Linked DNA regions of Homo sapiens: regions 2, 3 and 4 are each reported to be linked to region 1. The links are microRNA targets in miRTarBase. Many come from high-throughput screens and were not tested one by one. Region 1 holds a microRNA gene; each other region holds the end of a gene's coding sequence.

What was found. Region 1 holds the annotated microRNA hsa-miR-222-3p (AGCUACAUCUGGCUACUGGGU, at 4,876-4,896, opposite strand). A microRNA usually pairs through its seed, bases 2 to 8, with sites in the 3' UTR of a target mRNA and lowers its output. Matches are read on the target gene's strand: a 7mer-m8 pairs with bases 2 to 8, a 7mer-A1 pairs with bases 2 to 7 and ends in A, and an 8mer does both.
Region 2: the mRNA of MDN1 is a reported target of hsa-miR-222-3p. The part of its 3' UTR that is shown has no 7-base or 8-base seed match.
Region 3: miRTarBase lists SSX2IP as a target of hsa-miR-222-3p. The part of its 3' UTR that is shown has no 7-base or 8-base seed match.
Region 4: the mRNA of ZNF236 is a reported target of hsa-miR-222-3p. Seed matches in the 3' UTR shown: 8mer at 4,637-4,644.

The regions. Positions count from the first base shown.
Region 1 is chrX:45,742,161-45,750,231 of GRCh38, forward strand. It overlaps MIR222 (microRNA 222), which reads right to left and starts at 4,964; the gene lies at 4,855-4,964. It overlaps MIR222HG (miR222/221 cluster host gene), which reads right to left. Exons shown (of 2, transcript NR_170290.1): 2 at 3,054-8,071. MIR221 (microRNA 221) reads right to left here and starts at 4,106; the gene lies at 3,997-4,106.
Region 2 is chr6:89,637,570-89,645,640 of GRCh38, reverse strand. It overlaps MDN1 (midasin AAA ATPase 1), which reads left to right. Exons shown (of 102, transcript NM_014611.3): 101 at 484-626; 102 at 1,448-3,143. The coding sequence ends at 1,636. It overlaps LYRM2 (LYR motif containing 2), which reads left to right and starts at 6,894. Exons shown (of 3, transcript NM_020466.5): 1 at 6,894-6,969; 2 at 7,759-7,899. The coding sequence starts at 6,925. It overlaps MDN1-AS1 (MDN1 antisense RNA 1), which reads right to left and starts at 7,109. Exons shown (of 4, transcript NR_111915.1): 1 at 7,005-7,109. RefSeq lists enhancers at 7,095-7,144, 7,365-7,594, 6,947-8,071.
Region 3 is chr1:84,640,333-84,648,403 of GRCh38, reverse strand. It overlaps SSX2IP (SSX family member 2 interacting protein), which reads left to right. Exons shown (of 14, transcript NM_001166293.2): 14 at 797-4,698. The coding sequence ends at 971. Among named protein-coding and RNA genes, the nearest start is that of LINC01555, 9.3 kb to the right of the region's middle.
Region 4 is chr18:76,966,527-76,974,597 of GRCh38, forward strand. ZNF236 (zinc finger protein 236) reads left to right here. Exons shown (of 31, transcript NM_001306089.2): 31 at 1,689-6,375. The coding sequence ends at 1,813. Among named protein-coding and RNA genes, the nearest start is that of MBP-AS1, 9.9 kb to the right of the region's middle. RefSeq lists an enhancer at 1-647.

The DNA.
Region 1 (8,071 bases):
CTAGAACTTTATGGAAGGCAGAATTTAAGAGTGATGAACTAGGATATTTGGCAGAAGAAATCTTTGAGCAAGGTGTTCAGGGTACTGCATGGCTTCTCTTAACTGCTTATAGTAAAATGCAGGAGAGAAATATAGTGAAGATGGAATTTAAACTCAGAGGAGTGGCCAGGCATGGTGGCTCATGCCTGTAATTCCAGCACTTTGTGAGGCCAAGGGTGGGTGGATCTATTGAGCTCAGGAGTTTGAGACCAGCCTGGGCAACATGGTGAAACCCTGTCTCTACCAAAAATACAAAAAATTAGCCAGGTGTGGTGGCACATGCCTGTACTCCCAGCTACTCGGGAAGCTGAGGTGGGAGGATCACTTAAGCCTGGGTGGTCAAGGCTGCAGAGGGCTAAAATCTCACCACTGCACTCCAGCCTGGGCAACACAGCAAGAACCTGTCTCAAATAATAATAAATAATAAAATCAAAGGGGAAGCAGAATTTAAAGGTTTGGAACATTCTCAGCCTGGCCAAGTGCAAAAGCATTTGGAAGAAAACACCAGGGGTGTGAAGAAGTGACCATTTGCAAGGAGATTAGTATGGATAGAAGAAAGTCATACACTGTTCATCAAGACAATGAAAAGTGACCCTGAACACGGTGAAACCCCATCGCTACTAAAAATACAAAAATTAGCTGGGTGGTGGTGCACACCTGTAATCCCAGCTGCTGGAGAGGGTGAGGTGGGAGAACCACTTGAACCTGGGAGGTGGAGGTTGCAGTGAGCTGAGATCGTCCCGCTGCACTCCAGCCTGGGTGACAGAGTGAGACTTTGTCTCAAAACAAAACAAAACAAAACAAAAAACACCCTGAAGGCATATCAGAGACTATTGGTGCTGCCTTTCTCATGACAAGCCCGGAGTGCCAAGGCCTGGGGCACATAACTAAAACTAGGGGCTTAGGGTAACCGAAGAACCTCTGCGTTCACTGCCCAGTGATGCCTCATCTCTGCTCCATTTACTCCAGTGTAGCACTCCTCACCCACCTCAGCTGTGGTTATGCCTAGGTGTGGCTAGTGCCCCCAGTGTCCACATTATAACTCTGCAGACACACAGAGCGCAAGAGCTGTGGAGGAATGACTAATTCCACGTAGGTTTCAATGGATGACTTGGAGAGCCTCAGGACCAACACAGAGAACTGAGACAGGGATAGTGCCACCAGACTCCCCAGTGGGACAATGCCCAGGGTAGCCATAAGATTGGGACTGCCTCTGAGACTCCAGTACTGCAGAGCCACTGGAGTGTGATCCTAGCCTGGGAGAGCTGCAGACACCCAACTCCAACTTGCGAGGTGCTGTATAGAATATGCCCAACAAAACCATGGGGCTGAGGCCCCCTATGGCCTTGGGGGCTTAACCTCCACTCCAGTGTGTCTAGATTATTCTCAAGCCTTAAGATTTAATGTTGTTTACCTTGTTGGTTTTAGCACTTACTTAGGACCTGTTATTCCTTCTTTCTTTCCTATTGCTTTGTTTTGGAATGGAAATGTCTATCCTATGGTTGTTCCACCATTGTATTTTGGAAGTATATAACTTGTTTGACCTTATAGGTTCACAGCACAAAAGCAATTTGTCTCAGAATGAACCTTACCTTCAGTCTCACTCATATCTGATTTACATGAGATTCTAGACTTTTGAGTTGATGCTGGAACAAGTTAAGATCTCTGGGGCTACTGAGATGGAATGAATATATTTCATACGTAAGAACATAAATTTGGGGGGCCAGGAGCCAGACACTATGGTCTGATTGTGTCCTCCGAAGTTCATATGTTGAACCTTAGTCATCAGTGTGATAGTATTAAGAGGTACAGGCTTTAAGAGGTGATTAGGTTACAAGGGAAGAGGCCTCACTGATGGGATTAGGCTCTTTAAAAGGGGCTTGACGGAGTGTGTTCTTTCTCTTCTCCTATGTGAAGACACAGCATTCATCTTCTTTTTGCCCGTTCATCATCATATGAAGAAGCAGTAAGAAGGCCCTCACCCAACACTGAGTGCCAAGGCCTTGGCCTTGGACTTCCCAGCTTCTAGGACTATAAGAAAATAAATTACTGTTCATTATAAATTACCCAGTCGCGGGTACTTTGTTATACCAGCATGAATGGACTAAGACAGTGATCAACTCAGTTGTCAGAGGTCAGGGGTGGGATTGAATGTTGAAAGCTCCAACCCTCTAATCATACCTTGGTCTTTCTGACAACCAGCCTTCATCCTGAAGCTAACTTGCCACCACCTCTACTCCCCGCTAAGCCAAGTCATCTCATTATCTTGTTAGCATACAGAAAGACACTCATCACTCCAGAGAGTCCAAGGATCTTAGAAGCTCTTGTGTCAGGAACAGGGGACTAAGACCAAATACTTTAACAAAAGATGCTATCACCTCTATTAGTTAGAAAATTATGACAGTTTTAGCAGCTCTGTTCCAGGAACTGAGGGTGAAGACCAAATATGTCTTTTTCTTATTATATTATCACAACATTCAATCTTGCTTTGAGGATCAACCCAATACTTGTACCTGAGAGGGAAATGTAAACTTATCAATGGAATTAGGGAGTTCTTCACACCTGGCACCACTGTCAACACCTTCTCATTTAATGATAGGCAAAGGGACTCAAAGAACATCAGAAGTAAGGAGTGGAGGACTGGGCATGGTGGTTCAAGCCTGTAATCCCAGCACTTTTGGAGGCTGAGGCGAGAGGATCACTTGAGCCCAAGAGTTCTGTACCAGTGCACTCCAGCCTGAATGACAGAATGAGAACTCATCTCTTTAAAAAAAAAAAAAAAAAAGTATGAGTGGACATGGGAGAAGAGAAACTGTCCCTTTGGTAATTATGATTTATTAAACATAACCATGTTGCACAGAGCCACTTATTTCTCTTAAAAGCCTGTCAAACGTCTTAAGTGGAATTACTTTCTCTTCCCGGGTCACAAAAGCCAGTGGCTCAGGTACAGAATAGATAATAGAACTGATTGGTGAGTAGGAAGCCAAAAGACACACACAGAGAACAGTACAATCTTTTAAAAGCTCCAAGTCATTAGCTTTATTTTTACTGAATTCAGCATGGGATGACAAAAATGCATTATATCACTACCATCCATTATTACATGTAGACATTTATCCTTGTATTCTTTATATGTCCATTTTCTACGTTAAATCTGTTAACCAATACTAATTTAAATTACATGATTTCCTACTAAAAATATGCAGTTCATATAAGCAAGGGCAAATAAATCCTCCTTAAAACATTTTATTCCTTTATAATTGAGAACTTAACAGTCTTAATGGCTAGTTCTTAAAAAATGTTTATAGGATTAAGTTTATTTAAGAGAGCAGACAAACAAAACATATTGTAAAACTAGTATTTTCCAGAAGCAATTTCCATTCTCTTCCTTTCTTCCTGCAAACTGGTGTTTTATCTTTACAAGTTCTCTGTCATTCCATAAGAAAGCTGAACAGTGGTTAAAACATCCAGTTTGCTTGAATTCCTGAGTGATTCAGATTCCAGTGAGATTGAGGGTCATTCATAACAGTTACAAGGCTGGTGTGGTAAAGGGAGAACAAAAATAAACTGGGTTTCTGCAGGTAAGTGAGAAGACAAAATGAAGAGGAATAAGGTTGTAAGGCAGTATGATTAGGCTTGTGGGTGCTATGCCTTCTGATAATAATTATGAACAGAAATAGAAGCCAAAAAGTAAACAACATGTAAGTTGTCAATCTTTGACAGTTGAGGCAGGGAGAAGGAAGGAAGGATGACATTACACCTTATCTCTGGTTTACTAGGCTGGTGTGTGAGACCATTTGGGTGAAATCGTATTGAAATCATTCATTGCTGAGGTGATCAGCTTTCTTGCGGTCCTTTCTCTGCACTCTATTCAATGATAAACTCCACTGGTTTATACCTCCTGGAAAACAGTTATTCAGAAACATTATAGGGGTAGCATTGGTGAGACAGCCAATGGAGAACATGTTTCCAGGTAGCCTGAAACCCAGCAGACAATGTAGCTGTTGCCTAACGAACACAGAAATCTACATTGTATGCCAGGTTCATGCCCCAGACCTGGATGTTCAGCTTGCAAGTAATTCTCACATACTATTTCAACACAACTGCCTACTGCATTCAAGATTTCAAAATTGGCATTTGTCTTTTCTACCACAAGGAAAAGAAAACCAACAGTCAGAAATGCTGGGACTTACCTACTACCAACAAAATTTCCTTAAACCATCATATCATCAAGTTGTCATCATTTAATCATGACATCATGTTGAAAATGCCATCTAAAAGTCAAGAGATGAAAAAGCTGGATGGAAGGAAGGTCGGATAGATAAACTGGTAGGTACGTGGGCAGGTGGGTGGATGGATGGATGGATGGGTGGATGGATAAATGGGTGGATGGGTAGGGGTAGATAGGTAGGTAGGTAGATAGATGAATAGATTGATCTATCCAAATGATACCTTTCATAGGGGGGAAAGAGAAAAAAAGAGGTAAAACAAAAACAGGTAAGAGCTAAAACATGGATAAATATCCAGATTCCTCCCCCTTGTAGTATTGAAAGCAAATAGACCTCATCATTCATAAAACCTTGAAGGTTCCCAAGCCCCAGCTGATAATGTTGGACTTAACACCCTAGAACTTGACTCTCTCCTCTCTCTCTGTCTCTCTCTCTCTCTCTCTCTCTCTCTCTTTGTGTGTGTGTGAGTGTGTGTGTGAGTGTGTGTGTGTGTGTGTGTGTGTGTGTGTGTGTGTGTGTGTAATTCAAGGTAAAGTTTTCATTATTAAAGACTGCCCAATAATCTCTCTCAGGACACTGAAGCAGAAGCTAGAAGATGCCATCAGAGACCCAGTAGCCAGATGTAGCTGCTGATTACGAAAGACAGGATCTACACTGGCTACTGAGCCATTGAGGGTACCTACACCTTCCAGCAGCTGGGTGATCCTTTGCCTTCTGGGGAGGGGCTCTGTGGAAGAAAAAAGAAGATATCAGATTTCAATTGCACATTTTCTTTGGATCATGAATTGACATTTTGACAATATTCCCATGTACGTAATTTTAAACAACCTCTGGATTTATTTACTTATCCAACAGATACTGACTGAGTGACATTAAATAAAGTGCCACATATTTTCTTAGGTGCTGGAGATCCAGCAGCAAACAAAAAAAGTGGAAAATCTCTATACTTCTACAGCATACATGATTCCTTGTGACAAAATCTACAATCAATTATTTGGTATGTTTTGCAGTAAAATGGAAATATACACAAGAGAAAAACAAACAAGCAAACAAAAAACCAATCTACCATTTTATTGTGGCTTGGAGCATTTTTGTTGCTTCCTGTCACTTTAACTTGGGTAATCTAGCAATGATGCACATATGTAAAGTAAATTGCAGTTAAAAAATTCTTTCGTGTTACGAACTGAGGATAATACAGTTATTTTACCAAATATCTCAAACACCAAAGAAAATTACAGAAAATGCATATTATAATAAATATTCAAAGCAGGTGCTCACTAGCATGTCAGTTCCAAGCTTTCCTCCCATGATACAATGAAGGTAACAAAATAAGTCACAGGATTGGTGTTCTCTTTGCTATTCATTTATCCACCCCAGAAATACTTACTGAGTACCTTCAATAAGTACCTTTCAGTACCTTACTGAAATACTTCTGCGTGCTTTATTCCAGGCACTGGGAATGCAACACTGAACAAAATCCTTGCACTCACGGAAGTTTAAGTCTAAGATTTAAGGAAAGGGTAGAAAAAGACTGAAAAAAACCTCCATAGATATGGACGGTCATTTCATAGAGTAATGAAACAGTTAAGAGGAATGCTATTTTCGATAAGGTGGCTAGGAAAAGCCTCACTGAGGGCCTGGCATTTGAGTGGATTCCTGAAGTAGGAGGAGAAGAATCATGTACATACCTGGGGTGGGAAAGGACACCACAGGGAGAGGCAAGAGTCAGAACAAAAAGCACTGAAACAGGAAAAAGCCTGGTATCTTGGACAAGGTGTTCTTTTATTAGCACATGACCACATGGCCAATTATTGTTTCCTACTTTTAGGATTATTCTAGAAGGTAAATGACTATGCAACTTTTCTCCAAGTACACGTCTTAGAATCCTTTGCTGTGAATTTAAAATGCTTCAGCTATCACTTAGAAAAGATTTAATAAAGCTACTGTCAATTGGAAACTAGTACCATTTGATCGGACATGCAGCTATACCACAGTATGACACACACATATTTATCACCAAGAGAAAAGTGGCTTTTTAAAAATGTGTTAGCTATAAGAAAAGATAACCAGCTTTCTGGGAGCTCTAAATATATACATATCTAGGGAATGATTTAACTATTTAATCACAGATGTCTAATTTTAAGAGGCAACTCACTTGCCAAATTATAGTAATAGTGCTTCACCAGTGTGGTTAGCTCTTGGTGGGGGAGGATAAGGGTGGAATTTACAAGGTGAAGCAGGGGTTTTTTTGATTGCTTGCTTTTTTTTCTCTTTAAATAAGTTAAGGCCAATCCCATCTATGAAGTATATTTTGGCACTGCCTACAAACCAGAGCATACATACTGAAGTGGGGGAAAAGACCGTTTATATAGGTTTGGCTAAGTCTTACCCTCAATGTAAAATAAAGCATTTGTAGAACACACAAACTTACATTTCATAAACCACTAAAACTAACTGTTCATAACTCTACTTTTATGAATAAGACTAACAATTAAAGTGAGGCAAGGGTTTAGTGTGGTCACTTTCAATGCCAAAATACAAAAGATTATCTTTTATAAATCTTTACATTTAGATGAGAAAAGGTAAATTTTTAATTCTCAAAGGTATCTATTCTCCACATCTTAGTACTAAAGTTAAGGTGGTCTTTTGCCCCTTGTTTTAAATTTAATCTAGGTAATACAAATAGGAAAATCTGTAAATAAAATTTTATTAAAGGTTATTCTGTAAATTAGTGTCAACCACTAAACAATACTATACAGTTTTAAGTTTATTAAAAACACAAAGAATAGAATATGTAGAATATATAACACCATAGAATATTAACCAATAATGCATTTTCAGTTTAAAAATAAAAGGAAAAGAAAAGAAATAGGTTCAAACTAGAAATGTTGAGTTATATAATTCTGTTATCTAACAATTAAGATGACAACTAAGCCCCAAGGGTGAGTGATAGGACTGTAACCAAGGTACTTCTGCTCAAGTCCTAGTCACACTGCAAACAAACAAAACAAAAATAATAATAAACAAAAACTCCCATACATTCTGGCTAAAGACCATTTATTTGAGGTATGAGAAAGAGTTTAAAGGGAGGGAAAGACTATTAAAAGTTAAGCCTGCCACCTGCTGTTGGAAGGCCTGCTTTGAACTGGGATAAAGACCATTTCTTGAAATGTTAACCTAGAATTTGAAGAGCTTACACTCCACACGGTTAGAACAGGGGCAACCTATACACCAAACCAAGAAGTAAAGAAACCCATTGATGTTTAAAGCTACACTGAGAGAGATAAAAGTCACATTCGCATCAAAGTTCTACTGGAAATGAAAGAAATGCTGCTTCGTGCGTCATTCTACTGAAGGAAGAGTAGAATTACTCTGTCTTTTAAACTGATTACCTGGACAATTCTATTTTGCCCCCAAAAAGCATCTCTGACTTTAGAAATTATCATTTTTAGAAAGAAATTTTGACCCTAGGGACTATATGTGGAAGTAAATGAAGAGAGATGAACGATTTCACAGCATTGCCAGAATGCTAACTTTACCAAGTCAAAATTGTCTAATTCACTGTTTTTAACACAAATGTGAAAGAATCTATGCTTCTTTGAGTAAAAGAACTTCCAGATGCTTTCCAGTTCCATGATTTTCTATAACCTCACAAAGTCTGGCCCCACATGTCCCCCTAAACCCCATCCATGATATTTCACATATTTTTGTTCATGCACCAGTAGTTTTCTGTAACTAAATAGGAATAGAGTCAAATTCTATCACAATCATGTTTAGGGATTTGACAGAGCATAAGCCAGTCC
Region 2 (8,071 bases), not on the chromosome of region 1:
GAAATTAGGTACAAGGAATTAACAGAAATCTAAAGATGATTATATGTAACGACTGAAATTTGGAAGACACAGTTCCAGATTTCTGATTTGGCCACTTTCTTCTAATGCCCTTCTCAGTACTATCATTTTTAAAGTTTATAGCCATAAACTAGTGTTTTAATTCTCATGTACAGTATGTTGCTCTACAATTTGAAGTTGAGCAGAACTTAACATTTCTTGAAGCACTATTGAGAAATTCTTCTATACTGACAGAAGCTTACTTAGTATCCCTTATTATGCCTTGTCTCTGACTCAAGCATTCTAAGGGATAGATCTCATCAGAGGTCCCTTAGGTTTGTGCCCAGAATTCATCAGCTTTAGAGGTCTGTTTAGCTTTAATAGTACAGAGAAAGCCTACACTAATTTGTCCTACTTTGGGTAGTTGTGAGTTATTAAAAATGGCTGTTCATTTTATTCCCTTGCTTCGTCTTATATGGTCTACAGAAACTGCACAACTCCTCCTGGTAGTCTCTGATGGGCGAGGCCTTTTCCTTGAGGGCAAAGAAAGAGTCCTGGCAGCAGTTCAGGCTGCCCGGAATGCAAATATCTTTGTCATCTTTGTTGTATTGGACAATCCCAGTTCACGGGTGAGTGACTACTAAAAGCCACCTTTTCTGGAGGTAAAGTGGGGATTCCCTTCAACCTGTTCAATCTGAAATATGGCCTGGATCACTCAGTCATACTGAGAACTCCCAGCATTCATAGTATTCTGTCAAGTACCATTGTAGGCACTTGTAAGTATTTTCTCTATTAATCTTTGCAATAAGCCAGTGAGGTAGGGATCATTATTCCCACTTTACACTGAAGGAACTGAAACACATAGAGGTTATAGGTAATGAGTGGGAGAGCCAAGATTCAGAATGACCATCCTCTGTGGGTCATCATTTCCCTCTATGCAAAGTCAGTGCAGGTATTGCAGCCTTGATAATGGGTACTGACCACTTTGAAATGGAGATTAGGTGTTGCCACACTTAACTTATGTCTCAGTAGCTCCTCACAGCAAGAAGCATCAATCATCTTAGTGAAATATGCCTATAGGGCAGTTCTGTTCCAGGGAAGCATTGTCTCTGTGGGTCACATTAAGGCCTTGATAGGAAGGTAAAGATTTAGTGTGAATGATTCCAAGTGGATGATGGGGAGACACCACTGTAGGGAAAGCAGATTTTCCTGTCTATCCCTTTTCCTTTTTTTCAGTGTCCATCCTCCTGGAAGGGGCACTCAGAAAGACATCTACCTCCTTCTTAGTAGAGTTCTGAAAATTCTCTTTTACTTAGTAATAAAAGGTAGGTTCATATGCAGGAATAAGACACAGGAGATGTAAAAGTTAGCAAAAGAGATCACAGAAGAGCTAGCTAAGGATGCTGGTTTAATCGCTGCCTCCCCATTTCAAAATGTCTTTTGTTGACAGGATTCTATCTTGGACATTAAAGTACCGATATTTAAAGGACCTGGAGAGATGCCTGAAATCCGATCCTACATGGAAGAGTTCCCATTCCCATACTATATCATTCTTCGAGATGTAAACGCACTTCCTGAGACACTCAGCGATGCCCTCAGACAGTGGTTTGAGTTGGTGACAGCCTCTGACCACCCATAGAACAGAAAGAAGAGTCCAAAGTGAGACTTAACTGTGGTCAGAAGGTCACATTGCTTACCCAGGTGCTCCCTTTTGGACAACTACAAAAAATTTTATTGTAATATTTTTATTTTACAACGTGATCTTACAGCCTACAGAATGCTCTCTGGCTCCCGGCTTTGCCTGGGCTGAGGTTTTTATACCAAACCTGGAAGCAGCAGCAGGTGCCTGAACTCGTAACTAGAGAAGAGTTATCCTTCTTCCCTGCCTTGGAAGCCCTGGCCTGGGAGGAGGTCATACCCCACCGTTGGAGCCCAGCTGCCTGTTTTCTTTTGCAGGGGATCTGGGCACCTGTGCCTTGAGGAGATGCTGCCAGGAGCATGGGACTCTGACAGTCCTTTGTATAAAGGACTAAAGGGAGCTGCCCTTTTGACCCTGTTCTAAGCTCTGCCTTGCCAAGCCCATAGTGTGTGCCCAAAAGCTGTCAAGTGGCCAAGACAGCTCGTTTCTGGAGAGTATGAGGGTGTGTTTTCTTATTGTGAAAGGAACTACCTTCTCTTAGAGGGTAGGAAGAATGTGGTGTGTGTGTGTTCTCATAAAGCAACTGGACATTATAGGTGCCCAGGTCATCTATAAAAACGATCCTTGGGCTGTGTAAAAATGAAGTGGCTTTTCAGTATCCTCTTTCACACTTGCTGCTTCGGGAGACTATGCAATGATGGGAAGGTGATTGCCCCTTTATTTCATTCAGTGCCATGGTCCCTGTTGTTGTAGTAATTTATTTGTTTAGTTCATTTTTTTTTTTCTTAACAGTCAAGGGGAAGAGTGATTCCTCACACTGCTTTCAAGCTGGACTGAGCCAGTCTCATTCTGGGAAAGAAACGCTGTGTCCAGAACTCAGCAGCTCCATCTATTTTTTCCAGTCGAAAGAAACTGATCTTTAGGCAGTTTTTACTTGGCCAGAAAGCAGTGCTGAATACTTGAAACTGTGTGCTCTGTTCTACTTAATGTTCTGTCAGAATGTTCTTTTGTAGGCAGTATGTCATGATGTAATCATCTATCTCCTTGTCTGTTTCCAAGTTACACTGTGAAGTCTGCGACCCTTTTGAGGTGGTCATCAAAGACACAGATTCCTTGTTTAACCAAGTGTCCCAAAGCATGTACCTGAAGTTATATCATTTTTTATTCTAAAAAGCTATGCAGCTTATATTCTGAAAACTATTAAAACATATACCACTGTTGTTGATGTAATTTGTGACTCTTCTTAATGGAAGATGACAGGATTGTAAAAGGTATGCTAGGGGACTGATCTTCTCTGCTGGATCAGTCAGTCAGCTGTTACTAGTTGATGCTGTGCTAACATGATCCCCTCCTACTTCCATGTTGCTCTTACTACAAAGGTTATCATTTGCATTTATGTCCATGGTAGGCTGAGCTATAATATGCTGGCTTTGCAGCAGAATGAAAAGGATGAGTTGGTGTAGCCTTATAAGGAGGCTTATAAAAATTAATTATCCTCCATAAATGATGATGTTGCATCCCACTCACATTTCATTGGCTAAAGCCCTCTATGGGGCAGGGAGTTTAATCTTCCAGTAGGGTTGAGTCTGGGAGGGAAAGACACCAATATTATGACAATGCTGCAGTCTATTACATCTGCCTTTGGAAGCTCCATCTTTCTTAGACCTCAAACTGGTGTGCCCAGAGTGATTCCCTTGGCCCTGGGTTAGCTCATGAGATCATGGACAGTAGGAATTCCAGGAAGCAGGAACCCAAGAGTGCCATTTTCAACTTGTGCTGCCAACAGGGGCTTGCAGGAGTAGTGATCAATTAATCTGCCATGTTGATAGTTGACATTTGTGCTATCCTGCCCACCCCCCCCTCCCCCAACCCCCCAGGCCTTGGCCAAATAGGTAAGTAAGTAAGTTCTGATATTTAAGGAATGGACAGCAGAACACAAAAGTCCTCCATGCTGTCTTAAAAATCTCACTTTGGGGCTGGGTGCAGTGGCTCACGCCTATAATCCCAGCACTTTGGGAGGCCAAGGTGGGTGGATCACTTAAGGTTAGGAGTTAGTTTGAGACCAGGCTGGCCCATATGGTGAAACCCCATCTCTACTAAAAATACAGAAAATTAGCTGGGTGTGGTGACGCGCACCTGTAATCCCAAGCTACTTGGGAGGCTGAGGCAGGAGAACTGCTTGAACCAGGAGGTGGAGGTTGCAGTGAACTGAGATTGTGCCACTGCACTCCAGCCTGGGCAACAGAGCAAGACTCTATCTCAACAACAACAATAAAATCTCACTTTGGATAACTTCTTCACCACTCCCGTGGCCTCCACCATCACTGAAGCAAAAGGACTGTAAAATTCTCCATCCAGGGGTCCAGGAAATCTACTCTTTGGTATTCTTAATTATATTCAGACATCTGCTGGATGTCACTGTGTTCTAATTCCCCTATTCCAAACCCATTCCTTCAACATTCCCCATCTGGGATGACCACTCCAACAGCCACCCTGTTTACAAACTTGGGACTTAACCTATACATCTGCTTTACTTCCTTCTCCATCTCTATCCATACCCCAATCAAATTAATTAATCATCTTGTCCAGTCAGGCTTCTGGATATCCTGTCCCATCCCTCCCCCTCCCCCTACTGCACTGTGACTGGGACTCTTTTAATCTCTAGCAGGGACTACTTCAATGGTATCCTGGCCAGGCCAGTAACTTCTCTTTGCTTGCTTCACTTCATCCTATTCACAACATCCAAGATCTTTCTAAAAGTTCTGTAGCTGAAAATCCCTTCAAAGCTCTCCCTTGTGAAGAGGGTAATATTCAAGCTTCTTCATGTGACCTGTGAGGCTCTTGCTTGACTCTCCTGTCCCTCCTCTCCCAGCATTCCTGCCAGTGTTTCCATGTGTTGTCTGGAATCCTCTTAGTGATTCTGCGTTTCTGACAAATACCTAGCTCAGACAAGCCCTCCAGGAAGAATAATTTCCCACAGTATGAACTGCAGCATTCTTTGTTAGCACTATATTGAACTTAGAGGTTTTCCTGCCCAAAGCATGAGTCTTTGAGCAAGGAGCATATGTGACTCACGACAGCATTACCAGTGTCTAGCAAGAGTGAGCCCTTTTTTTTTTTTTTTTTTTTTTTTAAATAGAGCTTTGCTCTTGTTGCCCAGGCTGGAGTGCAATGGCGCAATCTCGGCTCACTGCAACCTCCGTCTCCCAGGTTCAAGCGATTCTCCTGCCTGAGCCTCCCAAGTAGCTGGGACCACAGGCGTGCGCCACCAGGCCCGGCTAATTTTTTGTATTTTAGTAGAGACGAGGTTTCACCATGTTGGCCAGGCTGGTCTCGAACTCCTGACCTCAGGTGATCCACCTCGGTATCCCAAAGTGTTGGGATTATAGGCATGAGCCACCGCACCTGGCCTGAGTGTTTCTTGATGGGAAGAAGAAATAATGTAAAAATGTCTTTCTCACATATTAATGTATAGATTCAACACTACTTCAAAATTCCAACCAAGATCACAAGATGATTTGGAGGGAAATGATACAAAACATTTCTAAAGATTATAGAGAACAGTACTAATGGATTTTTTACAAGAAACTAGAGTCCTGCCAGATAATAAAAACATATAAAACAAAAAGTAAAAACTTAACCCTAAATGAAACAATTCTGGACAGATTACTCAGACCCTAAAAGAATTTATCATACAGTCAAAAAGGCATCCATCATAAAGCCCCGAAAAAGGAATGAGTTATGTAATCAATGGTATTGATACAGCTTAACATCTAGAAAAGAACTTAGATCCACGTGATGCTGTAAACCAAAGTAAATTCTAGATGGAGTAAATATTTTAAAAATTAAAGTTTTTAAAAAACGAATTACAAAGGCCTGAATGGGAAATGAAAAGCCTCAAAAGGCACAAAAATACATGATTGTATAAAGTTTCTGTATGTATAAAGAAATGACAAAAAATATAGAGCCCATATAAATGTCCTCATCATAAACGGACCCAAGTCATGAACAATTCACAAAAACAGTATAACTAAAAATGGCGAGGGGTATTTAACTTCACTCCTTTTAAAAAGTTAGCAATTAACTATTACAGCTAATGTATTAGACAAAATTTGGCATATATTATTGATAATATGATCATGCAGTTAGCATCATTCATACAATGCCTGGTAAAGTTCAAAAGAGCTAATGATTAGAGTTCTTACATGTGCCAGGACCTGTTCTCAGTACATTAGAGATACACAACTGAGGTAGATGCTATATTTCACTTTACAGGGGAGGTAATAGGCCAGGAGAGGGGAAATAGCCAGAACACAGCTAGGAATAGGGAGCCCCAGGATGCTAACAGGCGAGGCAAGCAAGTCCCCAGTAAACTAGTAATTGAACATTTTTCGTTCTATTTTAATTCGATACAACACCACTTGGAAAATTAATATGGCAAAGATTCGCTAACTCCACTTCTAGTGATTTAACCCAAAGGCATGTGTATTGTGGGAAAGATAAAACAACTATAAGGAAATAAAAGCAAAAGCCTGAGGCTTAGGGATGTTAGGCTCCTCGTTATTAGTGATGAAAAGTGCTTAAGACTGAAGTGGGTGAGCCATTCAAAGCTTTGTTTCAAATGATCATGAAGGCCACCGCTCCCGGAAAACCTTTGCGCTACAAAAGAACAGGACAAAAACGAGAAAGAGAAAAAACCAACACAAACTGTAAAAGAAATTAACACTTTCAATTTTAGTATTTTCAACTATACACATTTTTAAAGGCTCGAAAGAACATTTAAATACGTTTTCACCTCTTTCCCCCAAAAAAACCTTAACTTTTTTTTCGAGACAGGGTCTCGCTCTGTCGCCCAGGATGGAGTGCAGTGGTGCGATCTCGGATCACTGCAACCTTCACTTCTCGGGTTCAAGCGATTCTCCTGCCTCAGCATCCCGAGGAGCTGGGATTACAGGCACCTTACAGGCCTCCCAGAGTGCTTGGGACTGCAGGTGAGAGCCACCGCGCCCGGCCTCCTTCACTTTCATTTGAACTCTCTTTACCAGGAACTGTGTTAAGTGCCCTACCTTTCTTCTTTATCAAAACGACCCTATGGTGCACTGTTATCCTATTTTACCGACGAGAAAACTTCGGCCAGCGCAGCAGCTAGGGCTCAGTCCCGAAGCCTCGCGCTCTCAGTCCGAGAGCAACCCGCGGGCCGTCTCCTAGGAAACCGGGCTCGCCACACCCCTTGGTCGAACCCCACTTCCGCTCCTGCGCGCTGAGGCTCCGGCGGACCTCTGGTGGACATGGCTGCTTCCCGCTTACCCCCAGCGACGCTAACGTTAAAGCAGGTACCGGCGGTTCTCTGCCTTCCAAAGCAGCTTACCTGGGTCTGAGCTGGATTCTCCATCTGTCCCTATCCCCAACGGGGCGGGTTCCGGGGTCCTGATGCGGCGTGCGCGCCCTCTGAGATTGGCCCGATGCCTGCGGGGCGGTGCTTCGCTCCGCGGGGCCTGACGGGAGGCACTGGCTGCTTCCTTGGTTTGGTGCGATCGCGTGAGACAGCGTCAGGCGCTTGATTTCCCTGAGTCCCGGTGCCTCAGCTGCCCAGTGCCCACGGTAAAAGTCTATTGCACTGAGCTGTGGCAAACAGCAAATGAGATTACCAAAGATTTGAACAACTGTTAATTTAGAAAAAGTGCTGTCGTTGTAATAACAACTTCTAGGAGACCGGCAGCCCTTTTCAGCCCGGTAGGCAGCTCCTGATTTTTTAATGGTTCTTAGGTTTGACAGAGCAGTAAGCAAAAAGATCAGATGAACCTCGTGATGCTTTCTTTAAAACATCTTTTTGAGACAGGGCCTCACTCTCGCCCAGGCTGAGTGCAGTAGCGCAATGAAGGCTTACCTCAGCTTAGACCTCCTGGGCTCAAGTGATCCTCCCATCTTGGCCTCCCAAAGTGCTGGGATTACAGGCCTGAGCCACTGCATCTGGCCAAAAAAAGAAAAAAAAAAGTTTTTCTTTGCCTTTTTCAAAATTGACCAACGAGAAGTACTCTGGTTACAGCTTGGTTTGCTGAAGTAGAACTTTCCAGGCTGGCGATTGTGCAGTAGTAATTGCTATTTACTCCTCCCTTTTACAGTTCGTAAGAAGGCAACAAGTTCTTCTCCTCTACAGAAGGATTTTGCAAACAATTCGGCAAGTTCCAAATGATTCTGATCGCAAATACCTGAAAGATTGGGCAAGAGAAGAATTCAGAAGAAACAAAAGTGCCACCGAAGAGGTGAGAACAAAATCATGGTGAGGACAGATCCTAACCCTTTTTATTGATCAGTGAATTTTTTTTTTTAAGTTTAGCAGACATCTTGGAATATAGTGCCACTGAGCTGGTATATCTTGATCATTGCTTGTAATGTTACCGATTTTAAATTATTATTTTAAAATTTAGTATTTTA
Region 3 (8,071 bases), not on the chromosome of region 1:
TGCTTTTTTTGTTTCTGAGTGCTCCACTAAACAACATCCGTGGCATAGAAACAATTTTGGAGCTTAAAGAAATTCAAGGTATTCATTGTTAACTAGCCTCTAAGAATAAAACAAACAGAAAAAAGTTTTATAACTAATAGAGAAGCTGTGCAGCCTGACTTGGTTCTTCACATTTTAAATTATTTGATAAACTTGGTTCTCTTGCTCCTGAAGCATTTTGGATCTCGGTTTATATTAATATTGCAACAAAATAATTAGGAGTATTTGTAGCTAATTTCTACAACATCCTCATTGTTCCTTCACTGTAGAATGGAATTTTATATAAAGGCTGTGCCTTAGATTCCAGGCAAGGAGACTTGTGCGTAAGTTACCTAAAAAACTTAGTTTGATCATTTGTACAGGGATTCTGATGACCGAATTACTATAAGTATTGGTAAATAAATTTATAGTAATTTGGTCATCAGAATCCCTTGTACAAATGATTAAACTAGGCATGCACTACTACTCCCAGCTAATTTTTTGTAGAGACAGGGTTTCACCATGTTACTCAGGCTAGTCCTGAATTCCTGGGCTCAAGCAGTTCGGCTGCCTCAGCCTCCCAAAGTGCTAGGATTACAAGTGTGAGCTACTGCTCCCAGCCGTTTTTTTTTTCCAAGTAAAATTTTAAATTATATTTTTGGCCTAGATTTTTAGAATTAAAAGGAACTTATTTTTTTTGAAGAGTGCCACATTATGAGGTTAAAGTACAAAAGAAGGAGAGGATAGTCACTAAGATCTGCCTTTCTTTTCCCAACAGTTCAATCAATGTACTGAATATAACTGCTGAAGAAATTAAACCAAATCAGGTTGGAGGAGAATGTACAAATCAAAAATGGAGTGTGGCATCAAGACCTGGATCACAGGAAGGTTGCTATAGTGGATGCTCCTTGAGCTACACAAATTCTCATGTAGAAAAAGATGACTTACCTTAGACATGTGGACTGGAATTTTTTTCATTAATGTGTTCATCAAGTTTCACATCTAAGTTGAAACAGGGTGTGTCATAAAGTCAGTTATCTCTAATAACTTAAGATGGTCTGAGTTGTTTGTTTGGACTTCCCTGTCTTCCCCCAAAGAGTTGAAATCTTAAATCTATTTAAAAGGATATAAAAGCTTTGGATATGTATTTTTAGTAACAGAAGCATCTGGTTCTGTGAATAAAGGAATGTATAGATGTTTGGATGGAAACAAAAGCACTAGACTGAGTTTCCTCTTATAGGTATTAAAAATAGCACTTTTAGGAAACTGATTATTGTAAATGTTTAATTTTGTCTCAAATATAGTTGGCATTGGAAGTTTAGCCTTTACTTGAATGTATACTGTAGATTTTTAACAAAGCGAGTTCTATATTTATTATGTTTAGTGTGGTTTGAAATTACCTCTTTCATATGTTTTAAATAAAGTGAAATTTATGTATGTTTTGTACATAGATACACATGATTATGTTAAGAGGCTTTAAGATTTAAAAGTTTCACACAACCATAAGTATAGTATTTCATGCCAGTAAAATTTTTTTAGTGGTATTCTGTTTACAGATGTATTAGGACCATTGATGCATTACATTTAAGAATTCTCTTTAATACATCTGGGCAATAAATATTGAAAGGTATTCCATGAAGCTGAGTTCTTTAGATAATCAACACTACTAACATTACATTTTTGAGATTTTTATGACATTAGATTTTTATTTTGTATATGTAGAATATTATAATTTTTAAAAGGACTATTGATGATAGAAGAATAGGGGCAAGACGACAAAAGTACCTTTGAATAAAACAATTTAAGAAATTGGTTTAAGATATTGGATGATAGAAGATATTTAAGATATCTAGATGGTGATATTTTCCTTACAAGATGGGTACCAGTATAGTAATATCTGTATACTAACTAGGGCTTTGTATTGTCAATAATTTTTTAATAATTTTTTAATGAGGTATTTACCACTGAAGAAATATGATAATATAAAACCATCAAATTTTATAATTGAGATGATACTCTGGAAAAACATGTCATTTCATTTTCAGAAAACTCTTAAGCTCTCTTCAGTCTCTGTAATGTTTCTGATTGCATGTTTCTTCATGAAAAGTATGTTGTTGTTTTGATAGTAATAATAATAAATGTAGGCTCAGCTCTTTCCCAGGATTTTCATCAAAAAGCTTTAAGTGCCTAACCCTGCTTGTCTCTGTACATAGAAGCCTGCACAGATCCAACCCTTGCTAGGTATCATAGTTTAGGCCCATTTACCTTCCCCTGTACTGGCAGTTCAGCCGCTTACATGCACTCACCCTGTTTGTGGCTATTTTAAATTCATATTATTAAAAAACAAAAAAAACCCACCTATTTGTGTTGTCCATTCACTATACGTAACTATGTAACTCTTTGGAGTTGCATAGCAGCAGCCATTTTTTCAGGGCTGATAGGATATCATTAAGAGTGTCTTATGAGACATTAGTGGATATACTCATAGTAACCATATTTATAGTTTTAAAGAGCTAGCTCTTGAGCATTAGTCACTACCTTCAGCTTGATGCATGGTCACTTCTTTACTATTTAAAATACTACACATTGTACAAAATATCGAAGACACTACCATATGCTAAAGGAAGAAATCTAGCTGGGATATAGGATTTTTGTTGTTTTTGTTTTTGTTTGTTTTGCTATTTAGCAATAACATGGTCAAAAAGGCAATCAGAAATTTTAAATACAGTTAATGGATACATTTGGCAACAATTTTCCCCCGAGGGTTTTCCATGGTGTACTTTGCAAGAAATAAGCACTCTAATTTTTAAAGTAAATCTCTTATTTTAGCAAATATTATATTTCATGACAATGGAGTTCTAGAAAGCAGCATCTGTTTTTTGTTGCGTGTTTCCATTTTAAAGTGAGTTGAGTTCTCAAATTGGAAAGAAAGATTCCTTGAGACGTACTTTTAAAATCTAAAGTGTGAAAGAAACAGCAGAGTAAAAGCCAGACTCATTGCACCTTCAATGTCTGCATAGATCCAGAAGTTGTACATTTTACCTAACAACATCACTTTTGTTGAACATTCCAACTCCAGAATGATCCCCAATCACCCTAATCTCAGAATGCTGGAATGATGTCTGTTGGAAAACCCAGGACTCCACACACAAAACTCCTGGGATTTTGTTTCCCATCTCTTTCTAGGTGTTTGCAATGTACAAATAATACAGCTGTGCTAATCTCACATTTAGCCATGATAGATGATGGTTCTAGAGTGTACTTCCATTTGTAAGTCCTCCTGATAAGTGCTTTCTTGTTTATCACTATGTAAATCTGAAATATTTTGTACTTCATTTGTTTTTATCCATTCTGAATTTTCAAAGCATAAAAATGTCAAAGAAAAATTGAGATAAACATTTTGTTCACCATTAAATGTTTGCATCTGCAGTCTATGATGAGAAACAATGAAATTATGACTAAAATTTAACAAATAGTATTTTCTTATAGAAGCAATGTATTAAATGATTAGATACACAGGACAGTTCACAGCAAATTGTTTACTTACATGGCATAATTGAAATACTGTTATTTGTAAAGAGTTCTATACTGCCTACCTTAGCTAACCAGAATTGTTCATAGACTTGTGATAATATGGTGTTATGGGAAAACACATTTTGTGCGCATGATGAAGAGAGCACCGTGAATCTAGTCTTGACTGCCCCTGGTGGAACATTTGAAAGCCCTTGGGACTCCAGGAGAGAGGTTTTTGCAGCATGTATGCTAAATTTGTGAGTTAGCAAGACCCTGCTGTGATTACTATGTTGTACAGATCTTCAAAGTATATTGCCTAATATGAGTCATGTTATTTCTAGATTGAATTTAAAGTAAGTATGGATTATGGAAGTCTAGTAAATATACTTTTCCCTATTTTTGTCCTTTTTCAGTCTTTTGGTAAGCATTTATTAAGTACCTGCTGTATGTCAAGGCTTACTACTGCTTTCCAATCCTTGGTGATATGAAGACAGATAAGCACGCTGCCTGCTATTAGGAATCTGAGCTGAGTGGAAGGCCAACTATTAAACCTACATTGTAATAAACAATGGTGGATGCTACGGACACATTCAGTCTGTTCATAAAACATGGACTGATGGGTCTGCTCCAGGCCACATTTGTTTTTTAACAGTAACGTGGCTAGGCTTCCATTTATAAGTCTTAGCATTATTTCCTTTGTGAAGTACTATGTAACAGATGATTGTTTGCTAGATTTTGTTTTCTACAATCAAAATGTTGACCTGCAAAGCAGTGTAGGATTTTCTCTCCTCAAGAGCGTGTATTATTATCTAGTAGAAAAAGCATTCCCAAAGACTTGGTCCATGCAGATAAGGATAATGAAATTGCTCACTCTAATCCTTTTTCTAAATACAGTGTTTTTCAAGCTGGATGTAAATTAGAGTGGGTGGATATTGATTAAATTATTTGATTTATATGAAATCAAATGACTGGTTGAGGTTTTTTTGAACATTTACAAATAATGGATTCCTGAGAGCTCAGGAAGTACTGTAATGTCAGTGACATATGAAGCTCCTGATAAAGATCCACCTCATTCATATATTTGAGCTTCAGAAATACATGTACCTAGTATAATGCTTAACAGCACATAATATTTGTTGATGAGAAATACACTGATGAAACAACACATTTTTTTACTGGAATGAATGGACTATAAGTTTGGGGTTAGAATCCTAAAACTCCTCTTTCTCAAGAGGGTAAGAACCTTGTCATGAATCTATGCATGTGTACTTCCAACCCTATCTCAATTCCTTGCATATAGAGTATCATGATAGAGTAGGTTATGCTGCAATTAAACATTAAGTCGGTGTGGCGTAATAAAATTTATGCTCATGAAATGTCCAGTGTCAACTGGGCAATCCTCCATTTTTAGCTATGCCATCTGGACGCATGGTCTCCAACATCGCCAAATCAGAGCGAGCAGACTAGCAGATGGTGTAGGATATTTTTAAGGGCCAGACCTGAAAGAGACATGCCTTCCACCTACAGCCTCACTGCAAACAAGACTGGGAGGTATAGAACATGTAGCTATTTGGTGAGCACTTACAATCTGCTATCAAATGTAGTTGATGCTAGGTATTTCGTCCATGCATATTACTCTGCAAGGGGTTTATTGCTGATTATTAAAGCAAATATTCTTAATTTTTGGAAGGAATGTATTTTAAAGCTCCTCACACTTTCTAACCTTTTTATAATACAAGTTTCTGAATGTTCAAATGGTAGTTTTACTCATTTAGTTATTAAAGTATCTTACAGTGCACAGAACACTTTTATTTTTCAACTGTCAGGGAATCTTAACCTTCCTATTTTTAGAGTTGATAACAGACTCAAGTGTTAAATAATGAACCCAAGGTCACATAACTGCTGTTAAGTGATAAGACCAGACTTTAACCCATATCTTAGGTTTGCTAAATTTCCACCTTTTCCCACACTGCTGCAGTGCCTGCTTGTAGGGCTTTCTAAGTGAAATTATTCACCCATTAGCTGCCACCTATAATCTACATCAAAAGTAGTGATCATTTGGTCCATGTTCAAGACTTGGCCTCATTTTTTTGTGATTGGTTACCATGGCAGATCTATTCAGGGTTGGACCACTACCTTTCTGCAATTAAGATACTAAGGATTTCATTGAAATAGCTAATTTAGTAGTTTATGATACTCTAAAGGCCATTGAGTAATCTGAAGATATGTCTAGATCACCTGCAATTTGTGTGTGTGTGTGTGTGACAGTGTCACCCAGGCTGGAGTGCAGTGGTGCCATCTTGCCTCACTGCAGCCTTGCTCTCCCGGGCTCAGGCAGTCCTACCACAGGCTTCCAAGTAGCTGGGACTACAGATGTGCGCCACTACACCTGGCTAGTTTTTTGTATTTTTTATAGAGATGGGGTCTCACCATGTTGGACAGGCTGGTCTCGAACTCCCAGGCTCAAGTGATCCGCCCCCCTTGGCCTCCCAAAGGGTTGGGATTACAGACGTGAGCCACCGCCTCTGGCCAGCCTGTATTTTTCTGCCCTGCCATTTTGTTCACTCTTGGCAGTTTGTGTGCCGTGTCCCAACTGTAGCTACAGTCACAGTGACCAGAAATACTTCATTTTGTCCAAAAGGTTCAGTCACCTTTTGCAGACATTTTATCATGAAAAATAAAGTAGTAGAATTAACAGGAATATTTTTACTCAGTTTTAGAAGGAAAACGGCTGATGTAGGGCAGCTGGATATTTTCTAGTTTCTCTGTTGCATCTGCATTTAGATAGATTTTCTTGTTTCTGGTCTGTCATGACAGTTTCATTCCTTTTTACAGTGTTCTATTAAACCAAACCATACCCCAGCCCAGTGTACTCATTAGAAAAAAGTAAACATTTGCATATTCCCTAGAACCCTAAAACTGATAACAAGAACCTACCCTCCATTCTGGCTTTTGGATCCAATTTTCTATTATGTATGATGTCTAAACCGAGGTGGTCAATTGTTCATCCCAGCCAGGCATAGGATCAGACAGCTGAGTTCCCTAGGATTAGACTGCTAGTGCTTAGCCATGACTACTATGGCTGGTTTTGTTAACCTGTAAGTATAGTTTTTACTTGACTAAAACATGCTGTAATTTATTTACCCTACCTTGAGATTTTTTTCTTCTGTAATTCTCAGCCCAGAACTATTATTTCAAACTAAACTTGTATTTCACATTTTTAATTAGTGAAGAGGCTCAACGAAATGCAATTTTCAAATAGTCACCCAATAGTATAAAGCTTTTGTGGAATATCAATTTAATTTCTAGCCACTTTTAGTTTCTTTTATCTTGAAAATCTTTTACCTTAATAACTAGTTGATTTGGTTTTGTAATGTTATTCCTTTTAAGCAAAGAGGTATTAAATAATAAGGAAGGCTGGGTGTGGTGGCTCACGGCTGTAATCCCAACACTTTGAGAGACCAATGCAGGCAGATCACCTGAGGTCAGGAGTTTGAAACCAGCCTGGCCAACATGGTGAAACCCCATCTCTACTAAAAATACAAAAATTAGCCGGGCGTGGTGGCAGGCGCCTGTAATCCCAGCAACTCGGGAGGCTGAGGCAGAAGAATTGCTTGAACCCGGGAGGGGTAGGTTGCAGTGAGCCTAGATCACGCCATTGTACTCCAGCCTGGGGGACAAGAGCAAGACTTCGTCTCAAAAATAAATAAATAAAAAATAAATAAATAAGGAAAATCTCTATAAATTAGATCTCAGTGAAATTAAACTTTTCCAAACAAATAGTTTTTCAGATTCTGTGTTAATGCCCCAAAGAAAACTAGAAATCCAACAACTAGCCACACAAAGCCTTGGTACATATGTTCTAAAGAAGCTATTTTGATCTTAAACCATGAAAAATTTTAACTGGAATTTTAAAAATCACATTGCCTTTTTATTTCCAAAGCACTTGTCTTCATTTTTATCAAGGGCAAATATCTGAGGAAACAACTCATAAATGCTTTTTGTTGTTGTTGAGACAGAGTCTTACTCTGTTGCCCAGGCTGGAGTGCAGCGGCGTGATCTCAGCTTACTGCAACCTCTGCCTCCGGTGTTCAAGCAATTCTTCTGCCTCAGCCTCCCAAGTAACTGGGATTTCATGCATGCACCACCATGCCCAGCTAATTTTTGTATTTTTAGTAGATACAGGGTTTCTCCATGTTGGCAAGGCTGGTCTCAAACTCCTGACCTCAAGTGATCTGCCTGCCTCAGCCTCCCAAAGTGCTGGGATTACAGGCATGTGCTGCCACGCCTGGCCTCATAAATGCTTTTAATTGAAATTCTTTGATAAGGAACGAAAAGACTATGGTAAATCTCAGAGGCAGGTTCTGGCCTTGGCAGTGAGGGCCAGAAAGGGGTGTACATCAGAGACACAGTTGCTTGTGGTGTGGTTTCCCAAAATCTGGAGGTGCACATTCCTGTTGACTCAAACTTTTGATAGTGAAATGGGGAGCTATTCATGATTAGGCCTGTACCACAGTGGAAATTGGGACAAATGATCACC
Region 4 (8,071 bases), not on the chromosome of region 1:
GAGGCCCAGAATAGCATCTCTGTCTGTCTTCACATCATGTCTGGAAGCCCCTTTTCCTGCAGCATGCAGTTCAGGTGCTGTCTCGGTGCTCAGGGGCACAGAGCAAACAGAATCTGCACCAACTGCTCCTGTCTGCATCCTGTTGACCTGGCACAGACAACACGTGGGCCTTGGTTTCTCTCTTGATTCGCTAACGTTCATGCCCTTCAGAGTATGGATATTGGGGTGTGATCCTACTGCTTGTCTGTCCCTTGTTCACCTTTGTTTCCTACACAGAATCTAGCAGTGGCATCCATCTCTGAGGAAGGAATGATAATAGATGGCCTAGACTAGGTTTCAGAGGGTGGCAGTAGCTATGCAAGGAACTAGAAATGTTAAAGTCTGAGTAGACCCCTTGGTGTGCTCCATGCATTTTGCGGGTGTGATTTGATTGTTCGAGGTGGTATGCTCTGTGAGATCTGTGGTTTGTTTGGTTGTTGGAGGTGATGTGATTCGTGAAATGTGTTATTTGGTTGTTGGAGGTGATGTGATTCGTGAGATGTGTTATTTGGTTGTTGGAGGTGATGTGATTCGTGAGATGTGTTATTTGGTTGTTGGAGGTGATGTGATTCGTGAGATGTGTTATTTGGTTGTTGGAGGTGATGTGATTCGTGAGATGTGTTATTTGGTTGTTGGAGGTGATGTGATTCGTGAGATGTGTTATTTGGTTGTTGGAGGTGATGTGATTCGTGAGATGTGTTATTTGTGATTTGGTGTTAGGGGTGGTGATGTGATCTGTGAGATTTTTGTTTTGTTGTTGGAGGTGGTGTGATCTGTGACATTTGTGATTTGTTGTTGGAGGTGGTGTGATCTGTGAGATTTGTGATTTGGTTGTTGGAGGTGGTGTGATCTGTGAGGTTTGTGATTTGTTGTTGGAGGTGGTGTGCTCTGTGAGATTTGTGATTTGGTGTTAGGGGTGGTGATGTGATCTGTGAGATTTGTGATTTGGTGTTGGAGGTGGTGGTGTGATCTGTGAGATTTGTGATTTGGTGTTGGAGGTGGTGTGATCTGTGAGATTTGTGATTTGGTTGTTGGAGGTGGTGTGATCTGTGAGGTTTGTGATTTGTTGTTGGAGGTGGTGTGATCTCTGAGATTTGTGATTTGGTGTTGGAGGTGGTGTGATCTGTGAGATTTGTGATTTGGTGTTGGAGGTGGTGGTGTGCTCTGTGAGGCTTGCAGGTGTTCTTTGGTTGTTTGAGGTGCGGTACTTTGTGAGGGGAGCTCGACGGCTTTCAGTGTAGGGAACCCGAGGGCAGAACACTATATTGTGGGGAGTTTTTGAGGAAGGAAAAAGGGGTAATTTTTTCTCTTTAACGTCTACACTGTAGTGCTTCCTGCTTTCCTTTTTATTATGGAAATCATGTGTGTTGGTTATTGCTCATTCCTGATGCTGTGTTAATGTAGCTGTCATAGGAGTGCACTCATATCACCAGTGCTGTGTGTGCGTTCATACTCCTAACAGTAACTACTGTCCTGCCGGCAGAGGTGTTTCACCTGCAGCTCAAATTACTCTTTTTTCACTGGAATGAAAAGCAAATTACTTTAGAAATTCCTTGTCTCTTTCTACCAGAAAGTCTTTATTTAAATAGGAATCATTTTGTGCTCTGGAAGGTCTGAGGCTGCTTGTGTTTTCTTTGTCTGCATAACAGGAGCTCTGCAGGAGTCTGCAGGTCACCCGGAGCAGGACGGGGAGGAGCTGAGCCGGACCCTCCACCTGGAGGAGGTGGTGCAGGAGGCCGCCGGCGAGTGGCAGGCCCTCACCCACGTCTTCTGATGCGAGTTGGAAGTACACCTTTAAGAATGTTTCTGAAGTTACGTTTTGTGAAGAGCAAAGCACTTGGAATCTCCGTTTTAAAGCTTCAAGTGTTAAAAATGCTACAATAGTTTTTTATCTATAAAATTATCTAAAGAATCATTGTCTTTCAGAGACTCATAGGAAAAAAAAACTAGGAAAAGTGTCACCGCATTGTTCTCTTTTGTCTACAAATCACTGAACTCAGGTACTACTGTAGGCAGTTTCCTCCTCAGTCTCCTCCGTGGCTAGTGTGTCTAGTTCACGAAGCAATTAACTGGGTCTTACTATCATTGTAGTGTGATTTCTTTGTATTAGCAAAGACAAAAACGCTAACATTGAAAAAGTATGTCAGATTTTCCTTCATGTTTCTGGTTATAAGAAGCATAGCTTACAAAGCAAGCGTAAGATTGAGGCATGAAGTTCAGAAAAAAAAGTGTTACAACACACAGGGAAGTTTTTTCCACTCTTTTCTCTGTGCATTTTGAAAATTAGTCAAAATGGACTCTTTTCAGTCTACCATAAGTTAATATAACTGATACCTTGAGAGATGGCTGGACCAATTCTCTCCATGACAAATGTTTAATCATTAGTTACAAGAATGCAGTATCTGGGGCGTCAACATGGGGACTCGAGTAAACCTGACCCACCAATAAGGATTCAGCTGTCCACACGGGCTGGCGACACACTTACCGCATCAATCTGTGTTCAGGTCCAGGGTTACATAATTGCAGAAGCACAAGCCATACATCGCAGGTAGGAAACCACAGAACCGTCTGCAAGGAGCAAGCAACGGTGGCCCTGTCCACCCCAGCAAATAAGAAGCATATCTGTAGCTTAAGGCCACGAATCCGTAAAAACCCCATGACTTTCTCTTCGTGCATAAACAGATGTATTTTTGATTTCAGGGAATTCTTTAGTATCGTCAATGGTGCCACATAAAACATGTCCCAAACCAAATCCCACCCGTGCTGGGCAGAGTGCGTGCACGCCATTCCTACAGCATTCCAAAGATGGAAGGTTCTTTACTTCATGTTAATTTTTCCTTTGAAATTATTTATATGTTCTATATATAAATACATATGTACATAGATATATGGGCCTCTGTGTGGCTGAACAGTATATTTTGTAAATATAAGTACTAGTCCTAATTGCAGAAAGAGCGTCAGTTTCACCTCCCCACGAGCACTTCAGATCAGTATTGTATTCATTTTATTCATAAATGGATATCTTTTTCATTGTCATATAAAGCTGGGTTTTATTTTTTTTTCCTGAAAAATAATTGCCTTTATTTTCTCTCGTTGCCTCCTTGGTTTCAGAAGAGAGTAGTTTTATTATAAATATTGTATGGACTTTGTATATTAAGAGAGGAGCTCATTTCAGATTCCTAAAGAAATAGACATTTTACTGTTATTTTGAAAGGGCATCTTTTGATTTTTTTGTTGTTGTTGTTCACTTTTGGCATATGTATATAAGTAATATTGACGGTGATATGAAAACTTTTGTTATGTGAAGATATTTAAGTCAGAAAATTGTTAAATAATATTACTTCTTTTCCAAACTGCTTTGTGTATTGTATATTTTTTTAAGAAAAAGAAAAGCCTTATTTGACTTATGCTTGTGATACTGGACTTCTTACCAATCCGGAGGTTTCCTTCCTTGAATGTCAGTGTGTAAACCTGGCTGTAGCCGCATATGCAGAATAACTGTAATTGTGCTAGAGTTTTAAAGGTTCTGCTTTTAATGCACTTTTTATTTTATAATTTTGTATTGAAATATTTTAGAAATGTTGATTAATTTTGGTGAAAAAATATCCCCAAAGTGGAAATTATTGGAATTTTAAACTTTTGTTCTTGCTGGGTTATTTATTTTGATTTTAGCATTAAATGTCATCTCAGGACATCTCTAAAAGGGGTTGTTTAATTCCTAATTGTATAGAAAGCTAGTTTGGTGAATTGTATTGGTTAATTGACTGTTTAAGGCCTTAACAGGTGAATCTAGAGCCTACTTTTATTTTGGTTAAAGAAAAAGAAAATATCAATAATTCAATTTTGTGTCTTTTCTCAATTTATTAGCAAACACAAGACATTTTATGTATTATTTCGATTTACTTCCTAATTATAAAAGCTGCTTTTTTGCAGAACATTCCTTGAAAATATAAGGTTTTGAAAAGACATAATTTTACTTGAATCTTTGTGGGGTACAGGTTGATCTTTATATTTTACTGGTTGTTTTAAAAATTCTAGAAAAGAGATTTCTAGGCCTCATGTATAACCAGGGTTTTGAGGATAAAGAACTGTATTTTTAGAACTATCTCATCATAGCATATCTGCTTTGGAATAACTATAAATAAAAGATGAAGTTAGGAAATGTGATTAATTTTTTTCGTTTGAAAATATTTAAGATAAAACAGTTTGGCATGTAAATTAATTTCAAGTTCAGATATTTTTAAGAGAAAACTTTAGTGGTATTTTCCTTTACCTCTGTGAAGTTCAGAGGCGTTTACCCCTGCAGTGTCCACTGGAAAGGCTTCAGACTTTCAAAATCAGGGCATGGCTCCGCGACAGCGAGCCGTGGGCGTCAGCACAGTGCCCTGTGCATGTGTCAGAACTGTTCCTGTTCCCTTTCATTTGCTGCTTTATTCAACGGCACCCAGTCATTGAGGAACCTTTTGAAAGTTCCTAAGTGTTTTGATCCTGCTTGTGTGCTCAAGTAACCATGAAGCACTGAAGCTGAAAGAATGAATTGCCTTTGCAAAGATACCAAACGTGAAGGTGGGGTGCAGGTACTGAGGAAGCAGGAGGCATGTAGCATGTGTGGAGTCCCACCTGCTAGATAATGCCCAAGCGGCTGCGTTTCCATAGAATGGCAATAGATGAAAATGAAGACATGTTTTCAAACATGCAGATTGAAATGCTACCCCACCCCCATCAAGCTCTACTTTTTCCCCTTTGAAAAACTTGAGGCACTTAGAAAGTATCTAAATAGAGGAAATGCTATGACATGGCATCTGACAGCTTGCAGCCAGGTCAGTGGGAGGCTCATCAAATGCCACTCTCCTCTTCCTGACAGTGTTCTGCTGGTGGGACATGAACATCAGTGCTTGTCTGGCACTTAACTAGGGGATGTTTCCTTCGTGCATATTTTCTACTCCCCTGTTGTAATATTTTAAGGAAACTTGATCTTTGAAATTATAGCTAGTGTTCTGTGTCTTCCTTTGAACTCATATCACATTTATTACAAGAGACGCATGTGTTAGCACAGCTACACAATTTTTAGAAGTAGAAGTGGATTTCTTGTCTTGCTGTGGGTTTTCCTCATTTTAGAAGAATATTTGTAACTCATTAAGATACACATTTTAACATGAAATGACCATCACACAGATTTATGTTTGGAAATATTCAAGATAAAATAGTTTGGCATGTAAATCAATTTCAAGATTTATGTACATAAGATTTTTAAAGGAAATAGGTAAGATATATAGAACTGCTTTCTAGTGTATATTAAGGCTATCTCATGCCTGCTTCTTACATTTTTTTCTGAAGCTTATTTCAGAATTAATACCGTGCCCTTCCCTGACTAAAAAAAGTTAATCCAAGGATTGATCGTTGCGAATGTATCCCTTTTCCAAGACCTACTGCATAGGAAGTAAGTGAGGCAGAGATGAGATTATGCGGCGGATACTTCTGAAGGAAGCGTTCTTTTTGTGTCACTTAATCTGTGTTCACGTAACTTAGGCACTTTGGATTTTTTAGAATGAAATTTCAAAAGCGCCTACACGCACCACCCAATTTAATGTCGTATCTGTACTTGGGGCCTCTACACCTTTCCCATATTCTAATGAAAAGATCGTACGCCAAAGGCCACTGAGCTGGCATCTTCTTCATTGTGGAGAAAGTGGGAACCACAGAGCTTTTCGTGGGCCAGATGCCCACATATTCCTAGCAGAGACATGTTCTTTGTCATGGTGTGGCTTGCCACAACATGTCCTGTTTGGTGGCTGGCCCTCTCCGAACGGATTCCCCTCCTCAGACCCCCATGCACGGATGAGCACATAGCTCACCCTCACCCTCACACACTCACCCACACACTCACCCTCACACTCACCCACACACCCTCACACTCACCCTCCCTACACAGGCATCGGGGCAGTTCTTTATATGGATGACTAACAACTAAGAAAAAATGAAGATTAGTATGAATGGCAGGAGCAACAGGCAGTCAGAAGAGATTTTTCTATTTAATCTTTTATGTGTAACACTTTACAGCATGAAGACGTATTCTATCAATATTTGTATCATAATTGACAAATTCTCAAGTGACATAGGGATTTGTTCTTGATTCACCACTAAAGAAAATTTTTAAAGTTAATTTTTTTTAATTACAGAAGAATTCTCTTTTTATCTTCACAATTGTTTCATGATCTATTTATACATTGGATGATATTTATTTAATCCAGTTTTGTATTAGAAATGGATAGTGATGCCAAAAGCCACCGTGCTGGCTTTAAAAATAATAAAAATAGTTTTTGTATTATTTTAAAACTCCTGTATATTTACTTCTTTGGGTTTTGGGTGAGTTGTCACTGTTTAAAGGCGGACACTTCCTCTAGGTCACGTTTGCCATGGCTTAACACAATAGAGCAATGCTGAGTTGGCAACATATTCAAGCCCAGAGCATTTAAATCCTGGAGGATGTCCCAGATTCCTGCTCTCTGCTTTCTCTCGTTTGAAAGGTATTAAAGTGACTTGAAATGCCGTGCGCATCCATCATAATATCAGTGTGTCTGTTTATGAGAGATGCCAGATCCTGGACTTCCCAGAAGCATCCATGGAGTTATTTTATGTCGTCGGGCTCTTTGTAAAGATATATTCATCTATTTTACTATGCCTTACATTTCCAAACTGTTAGAGAAGTTGGTAATTGAGAGAGTCATCATCCTGTTGAAACAAGAGATTTCAATATACGTTTTCTTGGCACTGAGTAGGGACTCCACGTAGTTTTGGACTGAAAAAATTAAAGTGATGTTGACTTCCTGAATTTGGCTAAGAGGGAATGGTTAAGAAATTGCTTTACTGTTCTTTTCGCTTCTTTCTTTCGTTGTAGGAGGCATATTGCTCTGATAGATTTTGAAATAGAGTGGGTGAGGGAAGCGCTTTGGATCCCACTACGATGGATCATCTCAACTATTGGCAGTGCTTTTCCAGGTGAGTTTTGCCCAGAGGCTGGACTCCCTGTGATAGCGAATAGAGTGCTGTCCCTTAAGCACAAGCAAAGGCTTGTACCTGCAAGTGTGCTGTGCGCTCTCAATGCTGCGAGGGAGGTGGCGTGGGCCCCACTCAGACGAACTCTGCCTCTGACGGCTGCCTGTCCCTGGGCCAGCCAGTCACATTCTCTAGACCTGGCTCCTCGTCCCTGGGGTTAGTTGATTGAATTTCTTTCTTTCCAGCTCTGCCTTCTACTTCTATTCTCAGTTAACCGACCACATGGTATTGGGAATCACTCTCCATGGGCCCCTTGCATTTCTTTGTGTTATATCCACATGCTCTTGTTGGGCTGTTTGTACAGAGCGCAGCCTGGGGAGATGGCGATGGCCTCTTTCTCCAGCACGAAGGGACGTTTGCTTACTGATCAGTGTAATCAAGACACTGTTGCCCTCCGTACCAAAGGCCAGGCAGGTGCACTTCAAGTGACCCCCCTGTCTTGGCCTCCTGAGCAGCTGAAAGTCCGCTCCTCAAGCTCAGGCCCCTCCGCCACCACACCACCCACTGTGTGTGCAGGCATCTCCTGGCCCACTTTGCGTCCCACTTCGGGGCTGGGGGCTCAGATGTTCAAACAAATGCTGACCCTCTGGCTACTGCTCCTGTTACTGTGACTGAAATCCCCTTTGTCACCCCGGAGCCCACGTCCTCTGCCAGCAGCCAGGAGGCTGGCAGGCTGTCCTGAAAGGAAAGTGGGGAGAACCTGCGATGCTTCATGGCTGCTGACACCGTGGTCAGCCCTGGCTCAGCCTACAATATGCCTGGAAGTTGTTAAAATAAATGTTACTGATTATTCCTCACTGCCCACAGTGCTGCCCCCATCATTGAGGACCTTCTCTTGTGACCTGGCACCTTTGAAACATTCAATCCCTTAAGGCACTACAGAAAGAATGACAGATGACACAGTGCACATCCACGGAGACGCCTCACACGCCCCTTCTACCAATTAACAGATGCTTCCCCAGTGTTGTTATTCTGG